2 separate regions of the Homo sapiens genome follow, and region 1 is linked to region 2. Evidence: fine-mapped expression QTL. A gene starts in region 2. The other region holds a variant in brackets. All regions are shown on one strand. Distances are from middle to middle.

Region 1 (5,379 bases), 230 kb after region 2:
TGCTCATGTTTTATTGGTCAGAATAGTCCTATTCTACTCCTGTCTTCTAAAGGGGATGGAGAAATACTCTCCTACCACCTGTCAGAAAGAAGAACTGTAAACATCTTGTGAAGAGATTAATGACTGAGACATATACCTTTCTATCAATTCATTTTGGTCATGAGGCCTGTCCCACCTGTGGGAGCTCATATTTACTTCCATGTTTTAAACTTTCAAATTTACTTTATTTGTTCACTATATATTCTTGAGTAGAGAAATGAGAATAGGTAGTCAAGATAATGGTAAATAATGGTAATAACCCCATATAATTGCTTTCTTATATATAGATTGTTTATAATGCAGTTAACTCCCATCCTTAAGAAATACATAAAGTGTTTGAGAATCACTGGTCTCCAAGAAAGAACATCAGACTCTTAAAGACAAAACACAGATTTGCCCTTGTGTCTCTTCTTTGTATTACCTGCCTGACTATATATAGATCAGTGGCTCCTTTCTATATGCCATTTTTTTTCCGCTGAAAATTATACCTAGCTGTGACTTATGTGGAAGTGGCTAAGCTGGCAATAATTGTATAGATGTCCATACATGCCCCCTCAGAATCTCAATGGTACCTCAAGGTCATCTGCCTTGAGGACTGGTAAATCTGGTCATAATGTGGATAATTTACAACTGGAGAAATAAAGGAGTTCTCCTTGCTATGCAAAGAAGGCCTCTTTGAATGTTGGTGTCGGCATTAATTCCCTTTATGATGTGAGGCAAATCACTTAATTGCTAGGTGTCTTCTTTTTCTGATCCAAGGATAATATTAACATACCTCTCTAGGTCCTTGTGAAGCATAATATATAGAATTGATTGCAAAGGCATTTTCAGAATATGAGACACTATAGAGACATTTGTTGCACTCTGAATTCCCTACGTTGCCCACAGTGCCACTCCTAGAGGTAGATGTCTGGATAGGGAGTGAATATTTGAGGGAAGGGGTAGTTATACAGGGCAGAGATGTCTATTTCTGAATTCCCAATTAGCCTAAGTCAGTAATCTACGTTGTGGATTATATCTGGCCTGCTTGATGCACTGATCTTCCTCCTTTAGGCATTTTTCTGGTTTCTTTTTACTTGGCAGAGGAGATAAAATTCAAATTGGTCTTTTTTGCCTGGTATAGTATCTCTAGGAAGAAGTTAGATTGGATGGCCAATTTATAAACAATACTGACAGTTTGGGTTTAGGGTTAGAGTAATAGCATACTTGTTTAGCATTTAACTCTTTTGAAGTGCTTTCACATCATGGATCATTTTACCTGAGACTTGCCATAACTTTGTAAGCTGGGTATTACCCTAATTTACAGAAGAGAAGACTGAGGTTCAAAAGATTCCATATGTTGCCCAATGTCACCACACTAAGAAATGACAAATTCAAACCCATATTTTCTGATTTTGCGTGGAGAAATATTTTGTTCCATTATTCCAGGCTACCTCTGTGTTTTCTAGCAGAGATAAGTGATGCCCAGATATAAACCATGATCACATGGAGCCAAGACAGGGTTGAATGAAAAATTAGCCCAAAGGAACTTATTATTTGCAGTCAAATTCAAGATATTTTGCCTAGAAAGTAAAAGGAATGAGCTATTTCTTCAACATTAATTTTAGTATTCTAATGAATTAAAATTAATTCAGTTAATTAATTAGTTATTTTCCACCAGAGGATTCAGCCGGAATGGGGAGGGGGAGGAATTTTGAATTCCTGGTAAAAATGATGACTTGATTTCTTGATGATGATATTAGCCAATGACTCAACTTCCATCTCCCCTTCCCCTATAATAATAGGAATAAGGAGAGTTGATTTTCATGCATTCATTATTCAGTTACTACCCTTTGCCAAGAAGCGTTAGTCTAATGGATGAAGGGAGGGGGAGAACAAATAAGTAAACAGATTATTATAATACAGTAAGTGCTAAAATGTAACAAAGGATGGCACCAAACCCAAAAGGAAGGGCAGCAATTAAGGTGAAGTAAGCCATTACTTAAACTCATTAAGTAAGAGTTAGGTCAGTGGTGGGGGAAAATGGAGATCTAGCTGTTAGGGCAGAAGTTCCATTAGTTCTGGATGGCAAGAGGATGGGGAAGGAGGTGGGAAGTGGAAGGCGAAGGGCAAAGTAAAAGGTAAGCAAGGGTTAAACCTTGAAAGATATCTATGGCCTGCTAAGAAATTTAACTTTATTCTTAATGCTCTTGGAGATACTGCTGAAACTTATAAAAATAGAAAGGTCTGTGGGGTAAATGGATTTGGAGACCTAGTAAGTTTGTCAGCTGACTCAAAAACACTTCAGGCTGTTAGTAAAATCCAAGCAAGAAAAGACCAGGTAAAGAGAGGTTATGGTCTTTGCTGCACATCATTTAGCCCATAACCTAGGCAAACTAGAACTGGGGTCTCCTAATTCTTAGGCTGGCATTTCTTTCTCCCATCCCACATTGCCTTCCCATCTCTTTGGCATTTTTTTCCTTTAGAGAATTGTATTCCTTTTGGAATATATGCTGAGATGCTAGAATATCTTTAAAGGTAATCTCATTCTCCATTAAAAACAGATATTTATCATGGTGATGTTAACATTTAGACAGTTCTTACCAGCAGTCTCATTCGTGTGATCTCATTTGGTTTTCTTCTGAGAACGCCAAAGTCTTTTTACTCCTGTGGGTAAAAATAAAGATACCCTAAATTTCTCTGGTGGAATACTTTAAACTTCAAGCAGTGCCTTTTCTTTATATTGTAGTTTGGAGAATAGAGCAAAAAAAATTGTTTTATTTTATGCTTTAGTATCAAAAAATAACTGCTCATTGTTAATGAGAATTATAGGGCCAGTTCAACTGCAGTGATAAGTTCAGGGCATAAAAG[A/T]TCATATATCAACATGACCTCACTAACCTTCTCTGTACTAAATGACAAACTGCTAGGAATAGCCTTTGGATCAGGCCACAGAGACACTAAAATACTTACCCTTCACCACAGAACTGTATTGAACTCTATCTGTCATTTACCACCGTCAATCATAGAAGCCTGCTTGGATGCTAAACAGGATTTCAAACAAAAAATAAAAAGAAAGAGAACTTCCTTCAAATAGTTCAACTTCTGATTTTATTTAGTGTCTTTCTGGACATTTGAAATAATGTGGGGAAGGATCACAGCAAGTTAGCCATGTTTTTTGCATTTGTGGAGGGATTGTGTATAAGGGAAAGAGCAAGATTTTCGGGCCAGTGGGATTCAATCTGGCATCTATGCTTCTTTCCCCTTCCATAAGAGGTTAACACTATGTCATTGTTATAATGATAGGACAGATATGTGACATTATTCTTTTCTTTATAGCAGGACTAGACCAAGCTAACAGAGACTTGGTTAGCTTTTTAAGAGAAAGAGACTCATGTAATTTAGCCAAAAGGTTCTGAGACTGCTAACTTCATGCTAGACATACTTGCTGCAAAAACTTATTCCCCAAAATTCAACTAAATGCCATTGTTTCTTGTTTGTAAATGTGTCTATGAGAGACTTTTATAGTTTTCTTAGAAAATCAGAATTAAAAAAAATTATCTTCAGGAAAATGAACATACCCTTCAACCACCATCAACCACTCTAAAATTCATGTGTTACTTTCATGCCTTTTTCATGTGAGACAGAAATATATGGGATGGCATAAAAAATAAAATATATCCTCATATAGGTTTTATTATTATCCTCATAATTTGCCAACTGGGAATTACTGAGATTCCACATTGTACATAGCATTTATGCACTTGATTTCGGGACCAGGACTCTGGTCGCTGCAGAAAAAATACTGAACCATATGAACACTGTCCTTGCATTTATAAAGCTTATGAAGATAATATCAAAGGTGATTTGCTGAGTGAATTAATGAAATCACATAACCTTTGTGTTCACATAACCTTTTAACACAAAAAGAGTGCATTTTCCTATGACTGAGTCTAAATTACAGCAAAGCAACTGATCAATACGATTTTTTTAAAAAGTAACTTGCAGTTTCAACTGCAGCATTTTCTTTAAATATTTTTGTCCTCTAAGTAATATATATTGCTTCATTTAGATATTATACTATGATTAATTTAGTCAAGAAAGGAAAAATCAAAACATAAATATTGTGCCAATCATAAAAACATATGTGTAATAATAACAAAATAGACCTAATATCTGCACATAATCAGATTTTAAAGAGCAGTTTTGTAAGTAGGAAAAATGTGTGACTCTATATTGCCAATGACTGAGGCCTCCCAGCATTCCTGTTTTTGCAAATCATGCTGTAAGAGATCACATAATTATATGATCCTATTGGATCTTCAGTAGCTAAGACTCTGTTGAAAAGTTCTGAGAGTTCTTATGTCATTACCATCAAGAAAACTTTAGTAACATCCTATTCTGTAAATCAGAAATGGGAGGGATTATTCCTCCACTTACTGCTAACACTTAAAAGTAACAGCACAATGGATAAAGTAGAAGGTGAGTGCATTGCTAGGCATGGAGGAAAGGAAGGCCTCAGTGAGGCAAGAAATATTTGTGACTCCATAGAAAATACATCAGTGAGTCAAACTAGTCATAGAGAACCTGCTACATGTTTGGCACTATAGTGGTTTAAAGAACTATAAATTGTTTCCACCACCCAGGTTATTCCATTTTAGTCTCAGAAACCAAAGCAATGCATGTGTAACAAATGCAGAGAAAGCCCACAACTTGTCATTGTAATGGCAGAACAAAAATTAAAATATAAGCACTCTCAGTTAGGTATAAACTATTCATTTGAGGTAATTATCACTGTCACTAATCCTGTCACAGAATCAAAGTAGAAACAAAGAAAGATGGGTAGGTACTGCAGCTGGCCAGCCTGATTTCTAATGATAACAATGTAATGATACACAGGCATCCTACTTTCATACTACTTCCAAGGACAAGTAAATGATCACATAAAAAAAAAAGACTTTGACAGTTATCTTGCCCAAATCTTTCTTCAACCAAGTTAACTCTGGAGTGTTAACTTATAGACTAGCGTAAGAGTAGTCATTAAAAAAATTATTGAAACACTATATGCCAGGCATTCTGGTGGGGGCAGGCAGATAATAAATGGATGGTGTTTTAGCTAATGGATCAGTGAGAGTTTGGATACTGATATACGCTATGAGTAATTTAATAGATCAACTTTAGGCTTGCTTGGCTAGCATTAATGAAGTCTTCTTAGAAGAGGTGACACTCGAATTGAAACATCAATGGAAAGAAGGCAGCCATCCATTGAAGGAGAGGAAGATCATTCCAAGCAGAAGGAATAGCAAATACAACTCTCCTGGGTGGAAACAAGCCTGTTTAATGTGAGGGAGAGAAAGGGGGCCA
Region 2 (5,379 bases):
CTTATATTTTGGAGACAGAGCCTTGCTCTGCTGCTCAGGCTGCAGTGCAGTGGTGTGATCATGGATGACTGTAACCTCAAACTCCTGGGCTCAAGGGATCCTCCTGGCTCAGCCTCCAGAGTGGGTGAGACTACAGGCATACACTACCCTGCCCAGCTAATTTTTTTTTTTTTTCTAATTTTTTGTGGAGAAGGGGTCTCGTTATGTTGCCCAGGCTGATCTCAAACTCTTGGCCTCAAGTGATCCTTCCACCTTCTCCTCCCAAATTGCTGGGATTATAGACATAAGCTAGCATCACTGGCCCAAATAATATTTAATGGTTACATCTTTATGAGACAAGAGAGTATGCTGATGTTCAGGAAAAAAAATATATTCTTTACCAAATGAACACTCTAATTAACCAAATGTTTTCATTGCTGTGTACTTTATTTGGCATAGATGACTAAGCTAAACCAATAAATCTGTGACTGTTTTCAAAACTGTATTTCAAATAGATTTTTTGGGTGTACCATTATGTCTAGTGTTTAGTTTTATTTGTTTAATTTACCACAATACCAAAATGTTTCTTAAAATGTTAGACCACACCCACCCACCTCCACACTTCACCTAGCAGAAAATCCAGGTCATCTGTAGAAGTTGAAAAGCAACACAAAAAAGCTCATGCACCTTCATCTAATCCTCCAACCCTGGGCAAGGTAAAAGCTCTTTCCAGAGCATTGCATCCCAGTTTTTGGAACCGTACCTGCTCCCAACCCCAGGTGTGACCCTGTAGCAGGTAGGCAAAATTACTGTGACAATCTCACAATCCATCAGCTACAGAGCAAAGGATCCTCTGAGGAGAAGTTAGGATTGCTGAGAAAGCACAGGCTGCTGAGCATTCCTCTCCTGCCAGACATAAACCTGATGCAAGACAGAATTATGAGAAACCAGATTCAGCTCACCCATCCTCCTTCTCAGTCATCTTCCAGGCACAAAAGAAAGACTGAATACCAATCAAAAGATAATATAAATAAACCTTTTAAATAAAGTTTACTAATTGAAAGGACTAATAGATGGAGTGATGCATTCTTCAAAATCTATTGTCATGCTTTTGTGGACTTTATTGCTTATCAGCATTTTTCCCCTCAAGAAAAAAAAACAGAACAGCAACATTTGTTCAGAAAAAAAACAAACCATGTTTCTTCCTTTCTTATTACTTTTATTGTTTGAGGTTTCTTTTAGACTATAATGTGGCATTGTGATTTTAAGATGGGAAAAAAAAATCTCTTGTCTTTCAAACATAGGAATGTGATTGTATGCTATTGTTGCCAACAATGAGCTAAAGAGGTTAATGGATCACATATCTGGCAAACAGCCATCTTTCCTCCTGCTCAATATATTACACAGTATACATTTTATTGTTGCTGCTGAGCATATGATTTTGTCTGAGTAGTTGGTAAATAAGTTTAGACTTAACTGGTCTCTTTCTAAAACTCAACAGCTTTGTCATTCAGGCTATATCCTGAGATTTAAAAAGTGCAGTTTCGGTTCTTAGCTCATGACCTTTTGAGGTGATGGTAAGAGTGGTGGGAGGAAGGAGGTGGGGCGGGCTGTTGAATGAGAATCTAGAAATATTGTGCCTTGTAAATTGCATCCGACCTTTCATTTTCAGATTGCCTAAATTAACAGAGTGAAATTACCATAATAAAAAGGAATGGGTACTGGAGAAAGTACAGCAATTCTTTCTAGTGTTGTTTCCCAGATTCCTTCCAAAATACCTCTAATTAAATGGACCAACTCTCTCCACTGACCTCAGGTTGACACAAATTTGCATTCTGCGACTGTCATTTGAAAACAGACAAGCCGTCATAAGCAATAATGCTGTGATTTCTTGCCTAAAGGACTTTTCTGTGTACTGCATTTGTACTATGAAATGTAAGCAAGAGACTTAATGCCTCTACAGATAAAAAGGGAGGAAAGATTTTCATTTTTAGGGAACCCCAGAGGGAAAAAGTTTATCAATGAGAAATACAATGTTCTGGATAATTTTGGTTGGGTAGGAATGTATGTTGAGGGAGGGGACTAGAGTTGGGAGAGAGGAAGCAACACATCAGTCTCCTTGGAGCAGTAGAGTCCTTTCAGTCCGGTAAAGAGCACAGTAAGTAGCAGGTAGAATCAGCTCCTGGCCTGTTGTTTTGCTGGGGGCAAAGGGTTGGAGGAACACAGACTAAATTGGGAAGGCTAGTGTGCCTCTCGGCTTTTGGACTTGGGACCTGAAAGAAGGCTGAGTCCTGAGCTCCGCTTCCCAGCTAGGCGGTGATCGCCCCCTGTGACTCCGGATGCACACAGCAGCCCCAAGCACGCCGCGGCCGCCGCCCGACCCTTCACCGCCTCCGGCTCTCCCGCCTGGCACTCTGGAGCCACACACACCAGCTTCCTGGACACCTGTGTGCCCCAAGCTCTGGGTCTAGGCATCCCCCTCACCCCAGAGAGACCGGTCTCAGCGCCTCAGCAATTGGGTCCCTCCGACCTCTGTGTCCCCGAGTTCTGCCACCCTGGTCACCTCCGCAGGTTCCCCAAGCTGCGACCTCAGTCCAACTGGGAGCCCTGCGCGCCCACCCGGCAGCCCCACTGCGCTGCTCGCCCGCGGTTCCAGCGCCTGGGTGGGACGCGCAGTGGCTCAGCTGCGGGACCTCCGCCTCCGGGTAAATCCTCCTCCTCCCCTTTCTCCGCCTAAGGCCCTGCCCTCCCCCTGCAGCAAGCCGCTCCGGTGCGTGCGCCCGTCTCTCCGCCGAAGACACCTGCGCTTCCTTCCCCACCCTCCTCCTCCTCCCTTTCGCTGCGGTTTCTCCGCTGCCTTTGGGAGCTCGGGAGCGGCAGCTGGAGGAGGAGCACGGGGAGGAGGGGAAGGCGAGGAGGAGTAGGGGCGGGGTGGGTGGGGAGAGAGCCGGGAGGGTGTGGACTGGCAGCCACTCTGCAGCTGGTCGCCAGGGACCCGGTCCCTCCTGCGCGCCCAAGTGATGGAGGGGAAGAGATTCGCTTAGACACACACACGCGCACACAGCTGGGCACGTCTCCGGGAGGCAGCTGCCGGCTCGGGCGCTCTGGGGGCCGGGCGGCGGCCGTGACAGCGCCAGCCGCGGGGAGCGGGGCGCCCGCACAGCTTGGCACCGGAGGCTCGAGGACGCAGGAAGGGAAGATCCCAGTCACACTGAGTGTTGCTCTTTTGGGCGGATTGGGAGGGAGCGGGCTGCCCGAGGAGCTGTCACCGAGGACGCCCGAAGTCTCGCCCTCTGCGCGCAGGGTCCGGGGCTGCGCCGGTGCCCTCGTGGGGCAAGGAGGATGCGCACCTCCCCCCGCAGAGCGGCTGCGGTCTCCGGCACTGCGCGGACTCCGGCTCCTGCGGCCGCCCGTGCCGTGCCCGCGCCACGGGAGCGCGCCCTGCCGCACCTGGTTCCAGCCTCTCGGGGAAGTGCAGGAAACGCGCCCTAAACTCCACTACTTCTCGCCCGCCTGCCCCCCCGCCCGGCTCCCCGCCTCAGACCTCGCCGCCGCCGCCGCCGCCGCCGCCGCCTGCGTGTGGGGCCCGCTCGCGTCTTACTCACACGCGCCACGCACAGCCCTGTTGGTTTGCTCTCATTCACGCCGACTCGCTCTCCGCCGAGCCTAGCCCGGGCATCCGAAACTACTGGACCAACTGCCGTCCGGACCGCAGCAGCGGCCGGGTGACCCCCACGCGACCCGCCGCCGACCCCCGCGCCCTGAGGCTCCCGCCCGCGCCGCCACCGCCGGGGACCACGGTGAGCAAGGCGCGCTGCCCGCCTCGCGCGGGGGAGGGGCTTTGAGACCTCTAGATTTGGGGGGAAATGAGAAGGGGCAAATCGCCAAAGGGAAGCATCCGGGTGATGCCAGCAAAAAAGCACTTTGTGGGGTTCGGTTCTCCTGGGCGCTGCCTGGGGAAGACTTTTGAGAGGTTTGCTTAGGACCAGAGGTTAAACTAGTGCGAGATGAGAAACGGCGGGGGCAATTCCTGGGGTAAAATTAGACAGAAGGTGTCAGTCAGCCTGCCTGTCTGTTTCTCTCTCAGTCTCTCCCAGAGCGCTGGGTAGCGCTCTCTTTGAGGGAGAAAGGGAACACGCGTTTACTGCGCTCGCCAGAGTTTAGGGGTTCGCGTTCGGTCACTTCTGGGGTGGCTGTGGAGCTGTTTGGAGCGCGAGGGCAGCTTTGGGACAGTGGGGGCCTGCGAGGCCCCAGCAGAGGACAGGCAGAGGGCAGGCAAAGAACAGGCAAAGGCTAAGTTAACATGTGGGTGGGGTTTTCTCTTCCCAGCTGGCCCCCCCCACACCCCTCACAGCCCCACTTTATGCATCTCTTCCCACCCAACACACACGCGCGCGCGCGCGCGGGATGGATGCAGTCGAAGGGTGGTCATACTGTTACTACAAACAAGTCTGAGAGGTCGCTGTCGCTACTCACTGGAGCGCTGAGACTCCTGCTCCTGTTACTTGGGCGACCACCTTGGTTTAGGGCAACCTGCAAGGAGCGTCCAGCTTAAGGTGGATGTCTTTACCTGGAGGTTCCAAGCGCCCAGCAAACAAACAACTCCGGAGTCACTTCACCTTGGTGGGTTTCCTCTACTCTTCCGCTTCCCTACTTCAGTGCTTCAGGGCACCCACCCAAGGGAGCTGATGCTCACATTCGTGGTCTACCCTGTCTTCACCCGGTGGGACTCACTCTCTCTCTCTCTCTCTCTCTCTCTCTCTCTCTCTCTCCCCCTCTCTCCCTATTCCCTCTCCCTCTCCCTCTCCCTCTCCCTCTCCCTCCCTCCCTCCCCTCTCTCCCCCTCTCCTCTCTGTCTCCGAATACGAATACCAGTTTCTTCTTAGAAAACACTGGGGAGAGATTTAATATTTGCAAAGTGCTTTATGTCATATTACTTCGTGGATACATTTAATAGCACTGTAACTCTTCTCTGATTTATGTAAACTTGGTCTGATAAATAGCATGCAGGGTCGGGTTGGGTGGGGGCGAAAGTGGGTGGGTGGGCCTTCTTTCTGTGCTAATGCTCCTTTCTAAACTGATTTGCTAGAAGTAATAAACAGCTGGTGCTTCTCAAAGGTTTTACTTAGTAGTTTCTACATATTTCAGAGCTTTAGACAAATTACACATTATAATTTATTTCAAATATATTAAGGTCTTTTCAAGAAAAAGTTGAAGATAATAAAAGGGGATTACAAATATGAATATCAAAAATGATTATTTTTTAAAAAAGGTTTTATTGCTATCAATTATGTTGCAATAGATTTTTGTTGTTGTCATTGTTACCTTGGGGTTTCCTCCTAGTGAAGTTTTTAAAGAAATGAAAACAATACTACTTACCTTCCTCTCTCTGTTTGGTCA

Direction of the effects. Positions count from the first base shown, and alleles are read on the strand shown. Sizes are in standard deviations (SD) of each study's normalised expression.
In carriers of allele A in region 1, the expression in skeletal muscle of the gene that starts at base 2,951 in region 2 tends to be higher than with T alone (large effect, 0.95 SD a copy in FUSION).

What was found.
Region 1: its variant is fine-mapped to the expression of HS3ST5 in skeletal muscle (FUSION, PIP 0.92).

What each region holds. Positions count from the first base shown.
Region 1 is chr6:114,113,424-114,118,802 of GRCh38, reverse strand. All of the region lies in intron 3 of HS3ST5 (heparan sulfate-glucosamine 3-sulfotransferase 5), which reads left to right. HDAC2-AS2 (HDAC2 and HS3ST5 antisense RNA 2) reads right to left here. Exons shown (of 10, transcript NR_125845.1): 6 at 2,623-2,685. Among named protein-coding and RNA genes, the nearest start is that of HDAC2, 140 kb to the right of the region's middle. The variant A/T (reference allele first, on the strand shown) is at 2,890.
Region 2 is chr6:114,340,595-114,345,973 of GRCh38, reverse strand. It overlaps HS3ST5 (heparan sulfate-glucosamine 3-sulfotransferase 5), which reads left to right and starts at 2,951. Exons shown (of 5, transcript NM_153612.4): 1 at 2,951-3,779. It overlaps HDAC2-AS2 (HDAC2 and HS3ST5 antisense RNA 2), which reads right to left. Exons shown (of 10, transcript NR_125845.1): 10 at 5,245-5,379. It overlaps LOC107986638 (a long non-coding RNA gene), which reads right to left and starts at 3,649. Exons shown (of 8, transcript XR_002956366.2): 1 at 3,585-3,649.